Linked DNA regions of Homo sapiens: region 2 is linked to region 1. The links come from fine-mapping of genetic effects on gene expression. A gene starts in region 1. The other region holds a variant in brackets. All regions are shown on one strand. Distances are from middle to middle.

Region 1 (2,905 bases):
GGGGGTGCGGGAAAGGCGCCCCGTGTGCAGCCTGAGGAGCGGCGGCGGCGGCCTGAGCAGAGGGAGGGAGGGAGAGCGGGCGCGCTTGTCATGTTCCCTCTCTCACCCTGGGGGCATCCTGCAGAACCTCTCCTCGGAAATCCACGGGGAAATGGCAAACAGGATTGACGGGTTTCACACGCTCCTCGCTAGACAGAGCCGCTCATTACCATAACCGTCTGCAGCGACGGCGGCGCAGCGCCCCAGTCGCGGCGGCGGGACCTGCCGGGACCCTTGCCCGCCGCGCACCCGCAGTCACCGCCGAGCGGGCGGCCGGGCCGGGACCCGCGAGTGTGCACCGGCGGCCGGGCTGGCGCCGAGCCCAGAGCGGACCAGCAGCAGCTCAAGCGCTGCGGCCGCCGCCTCCCCGCTGACCCCGCGGTAAGAGCCGGGCTGGGCGCGGGCCGCGGGGGCGGGAGGGCCGGGCAGGGTGGAGGGCGAGGGCCCCCCGGGGCTCCTGCCCTCGCAGACGGGCACCCACGCGGCCTCCCGCGCGCCCTCTTGGCACCAGGGCTGTGCCGAGGTCACCGAGTGGACTCGCAGCGGCCGGAGCGGAGTCGGGGCGGCGTGGGGGCCAAGGCACAGCTGGGCGCGGAGGCGGCGCGGGCTTTTCCCTGGGCTAGCGTGCGCCGCGGCGCCTTCACCAGGGCGGGAACCGCCGCCTCCTCTAGGGCTGCTCGGGCTGCCACCCGCGCGCACCGAGACAACTCCAGGGGCGGGTGGGGTCAGAAGCTCTGGTGAGACCTCATGGTCCTCCGTGGCCGCTTAGTCCCTCATCGTAGGGGAAGGGGTTAAGTAGGAGGGGTGCCCCCAGGTCCGGATGCCGCGGCGCTTGGCAGGTGGGGAGAGAGGGATTGTGGATGTCAGGAGCGCGCGTTTGCAAGAAAAAGGAATTGATGCAGTAGCTGACACCTTCTGTCCCCCGCCACCTCCGCCCCCGCACCCTCCTCCCAGGCAGCAGAGCTGCGCTGCGGGCGGCGGCGGCTCCTCTGTCCTCAGCTCACCTCCTCGGCGGGCTGAGGCTGCTGCCCGCCTGGTCCACGCCTCCGCCTCTCGCTTCCCTTCCTCCCCTCCCGCCTCTTCGGCCCTAGCAACTTTCCGAGTGCCCAGCTGTGGTCGCAGAAGCAGGGAATAGGCGTCCTCGCCGCCAGGTCCCACGGGCGCAGGGCGCTCCCGCAACCGCGGGCTTCCAGCGGGTTTGGCCGGCAAGGGAGGGAGGGAAGGCCGGGCCGACATCTGCTGCGGGCTGGAGCGCGGGGGCCCGGGCCAGCCCCGCCAGAGCCCTGCCAGCCGCTGTGAGTCATTTCCTTGGAATCCTACCTTTGGTGTTTATTTCCCTTAGAAGGAAACTTGGTTTTTTTTTTAAAAAAAAAAAAGGATAAGACATAAAGAATAATAATAGCTCTTATTCTTCAGAAGAGGCACACGGCTGCGGCACCGTAGAAAGACAACTTGCCTTTGTTCCCGGACACTTGGGGTGTTGTTTACTTTCTCCTGCGGCCAGCGGCCGACCGGGCGCTGCTGGCTACCCGGGGAGGGGCTGAGGGCTGCGGCACCGACACCCCGGGGGTGTGTCTGTGCGGGAGCCAGGATGTGGTTGGTGGCTGCCGCCCGCCTTCAAGAGGTCGGCCCTCCAAACCTCGGACCCCACCCCCGCAACCGCCACACACACACACACCTTGGGCACCAGGGCTCGGGCATCGGAGCACCCCTTCGTGCTCTTTAGGCCCAGCACCTGCAGCCCCAACCACAGGACCCAGCTTCAAGCTCTTGGCCTCGCGGGGCTGCAGCTGAGAAATGTACTTCCCAGGGCAGACAGGTGTACTGCAGGAACGGCAGAAAAGCGACATCTGTTTGTTTAGAAGGGTTGAAGAATTTTGTTCCGCCCATCCAGTCCCTTCCACTACCACCACCAGGAGCCGGACAAGCTATTGAGATCATTTTGGGACAATGTGGAGGTCAGGGGCTTGATGCCATTTAAAACTGGCAGCATCGATCGGGGGTGGAAATAGCCCTTTACTTCCCTGCTTTCCAGTGCTGGAATCAGACTGCTAACTGCTATAATGATCTTAATCAAATGCTCTCCAATTTTCAATGACAGATGGAAGAAGAAGTGAGCAAAGAATGACCTGGAGCCCCTTGTTAGATTCAAGGTGCCGCTGAATTCATAGCTACCCTGTTTTGTGTGCCAGCCACTCCTATTAGCATCATAATTGCTTCTAGGAAAGAACAAGCCCAACTCATCTGGAAAAAAACAAATTGTATAGAAATGCCTGGTAACTTTACTACGAACATTTGCTGGAAAAGCTTGGCATTCTAGCCCTCAGTCTTCTGGGGATGCTGGAAGTGTCATTCCACTACATCCACCTGGGTGTCAAAACAGACATTCAGGAGCCTGAGGATGAAGGGTTAGGGCTTTTTTTTTTCTTATCTTTTAAACCCATGCATAGACAAAACACACTCTAACACCCTCCTGTTGAATCCATCACCTCTGATCTTAGAAAATAAATTTTGCCATAATGTATATCCTTTTCTTTATTTAATATTAATAGAACACGAATTTGTGGACTTGAATTGCTGACGTCAGTAGCAGAATTATAAATCTTATCAGACAGAGAATTATGACAGTTTAGATCTCTACATATAATACGAAGAAAGATTCACGTTAAGCATTTGTGCTTAACGCTGCCCTGTCCAATTTTTCGTGAACATTCAACTTGCCTTCTTAATTTGTTAACATCCAGTGTAAGTTTTAAATAGACTAGGAAGACTCAATTGCAAAATCTCCTCCCCGCTCCCAAATAATCCCAACTCATTCATGTTTTATTCAGATTTACATAAATCACTTGCAGAACTCAGCCTCTCT
Region 2 (2,905 bases), 57 kb after region 1:
CAAGCTATCTGGCATACTCTGATTTTCCATGTTCATTGGTTACATACTATGCCATGGTGTGGACGTGTAATAATGTGTTCAGCTTTTCCCTCTTGGGAGGCAACCCTCTGTTTCCTGGCTTTTGCTCCAACAAACTATGCCATAACACCCATCTTTGAAATGTACAGTTTCAGAGCAGGAGGTGAAGTTGGATGCTCTTTCATTCAATCCCACAGTTAAGATAAATAAGGATCAGAAAAGTAAAAGAACATGCCCAAGGTCACACAGCTATTTGCTTGGTGCTTTGTAAAAATTTGAATAGCTATTATTTCACATGCTCTTCACAAGCAGGGCAAGTATTATCAGGTCAACCTTAAAAGTGGAGAAACTGAAGTCAAAGAGACCAATTGCTTTGATTTTATTACCAGTGAGGGCTAAAGCTAGGGCTTAAAGCCAGGACTTCTGATTCCTGATCCCCAGTAGCTTCTTCCACTCCTGCGTTGATGGAAACCATTAACTCAAAACTTCTACAGGGCAGCCTTCTGTTAATATATTCTAGACATCAACTGTACACCAAGCCTGAAAAAAAAAAAAAGTTTCGTTAAGAGAATGACACAGTGTGGATTTACCCATAATTCATAGCATACTTTCCTTACCTATTAGAATAAATGATAGTTGAGGTTGTTAAAAGTCTTTAAAATTAAATAGATTAAATTGTGAGTGCTGGCTCTGCCAGTAACTCTGCAACCTTCAGCAGATTACCCAGCATCCCTAAAACCCAGTTTCCTCATCTATAACCAAGGATATAATTGCACGGCACCTGCCTTCTCAGGTATTGTTAAGATTAGATGCCACAGGTGTAAGAGCAGATAGGATAGTAGGATCTTGATAAAGATTAGCTATTATTTTGGATGCTGTAATTCTTAGGTCTCACCCAACTGAACCGGTAGATATCTTTGATATCTTTCCTTCTTCACTCTTGTCTAGGACAGGGAAAGCCTTTCTTATCTATGGGTCCAGGGCAGTTCGATATCCTTGCTGGTTACTTTGTTATTTCTTCGTAAGTGTAGGGTTACAGCGGGAAAGACCTTGAGAGTTGTCTCTTTTAGCATTGTACATTGGCTAAAGTGGAGGGGAATCTGTCCCCAAAAATGGCAGAGTGGGAATATTCTGACCCTTCTGAGCACGGCTGACAGTGTGAGCCATGGAGAATGATGACATTTTTCAGCAACAGAACTGTCAATGGATGTGTTACAGCTATTTTAGTGCCTTCTCCCCTCCTGGAGAAAAGCCATTTTCAAACCCGTTGCTTGCAATGCATTAAGTGATGAAATACAGATAACAAATTGCGCATTTGTTTGGCTTCATGCTTATTACACCCCCGGTTCTGGAAAGCATTGCACTTAGCCCCTTAATAATCCCTCTCCTGAGATCAATTACTAGGATTTATCTGGTTCCTCGAGCATAAA[A/T]GTGTTTTATTGTTTTTACTTTTGCTCCAAGTGAAGTGTGAGTGGGTAGGCCAGGTTAAAATGGACTGTCCCAGACAAGAATATGAAGCTGGGATCATTGGCCCTGCTTTTACTGTCTACCAGGTCCTCATGACCAGGAAAGGGGGGAATATTTGGAAGCCACTTCCCTGGGGAGGCACCAGGTCCAGATGTCCTCATCTCTGGCTATTTGCACGTATATAGAACACAGGTCTGCAGGTGCCTAGGAAGGTGGGTGCTGTTCCACGGGAGAAGCTGGAAAGCAGAACCAAGTTACCATCTCAGACCAAATCGTTTTTCCTCTAGAATTTCACTGTAATCCAAACCAGTTGAACATTTGAGAAGAACTGGGTACCATGAAAAGGGGTAATGGAATTAGCTTTCATGTTTTTCCAGGACTCTAAACCATATTTCCTGTCACAACTGTACATTATTAATACAAGGCATCTGTTAGCGCACAACTGCCTGAAAATGTGCACCCAAAAACCTTACATCTGGTTTCAATAATTTATTTCTGACATTTGTAGTTGGTGGTGGTGGGGAGTGGGGGGAGGATGGGAAAAAGGGGGGAATTAAAGCAAGATGTTGCCTTTAACCCATCAGAAGCTCCTGTTGGAGCCGAAAGCTGGAGTTCTTAACGTGGTTTCTGCATTAGGTAATATATTAATTTAGCAGCAAATAGCAAGACTCCGGGCCTGGTGGGTGTGGGTGCCCGCTCGCTTTTATCCTGCCTTCTCTGGCTGCAGCAATTAGCTTCCTCTTGCGAAGGGGATTAGGAGGACCACCCCCCAGCGGCGGGGGTTGGGGGGCTCTCGCAGAGCTGTCAGGTGTCATTCGGCTTACCCAGCCCCCCCACCACTCCCCGCCCCTGCAATTAACTCCCTCTCCCGCTTTGCCAGCCCCTCACCCGCACAGAGACAAAGAGGCCTGTTCCCGAGGTGTCCGACCTCCTGCCCCCTTGGCGGGCCCCGCCCGGGTTCCTCCAGCAGGAATCGCCCCAGGCGCTGGGAGCCAGAGCTGGCCGGGTCTGACACCCGCCCCAGACTTTCCACGATCAGGTTTCAGCTCGACTAACGAGGGGGAAAGAAAGAACGCGCGACTTCCGCGGGCCGGAGCCGCGCGGGGGCCCGGGGGAAACGCCGGCCTGGTCTGGGTGGGAGGGGACGCGAAGAGGCTCCGGGCTCGGCCAGTGTCTGCCCCGGGACTGGGCCCTGGGACTAGGCGGGGCACAGGTGTCCCAGGAGGGGGCGCCCTGACTTGACGCGAACGGGCCACCTGTCCCTCCCACGCCTGCGCTGCCACCCGCCCTGCTCCGCCATCGCCTCCTCCAAAGCTCCCCGGATCCTCCGAGGCGTCGTCGTCCGAGTTGTTCTGCGGGAGGAACTTCTGCTAAAGCCGGTCCTCGAGTCCCCCCCGCCTCAGGAGGGGCAGCGCCCGGA

Evidence for each region. PIP is the estimated chance that this variant, and not a neighbour inherited with it, causes the effect.
Region 2: its variant is fine-mapped to the expression of SERTAD4-AS1 in thyroid (GTEx, PIP above 0.99).

The regions. Positions count from the first base shown.
Region 1 is chr1:210,232,592-210,235,496 of GRCh38, forward strand. It overlaps SERTAD4-AS1 (SERTAD4 antisense RNA 1), which reads right to left and starts at 1,294. Exons shown (of 2, transcript NR_024337.2): 1 at 1,044-1,294. SERTAD4 (SERTA domain containing 4) reads left to right here and starts at 205. Exons shown (of 4, transcript NM_019605.5): 1 at 205-420. RefSeq lists an enhancer at 83-616.
Region 2 is chr1:210,289,965-210,292,869 of GRCh38, forward strand. LINC02602 (long intergenic non-protein coding RNA 2602) reads right to left here. Exons shown (of 2, transcript NR_183451.1): 2 at 374-558. Among named protein-coding and RNA genes, the nearest start is that of LINC02602, 1.7 kb to the right of the region's middle. The variant A/T (reference allele first, on the strand shown) is at 1,449.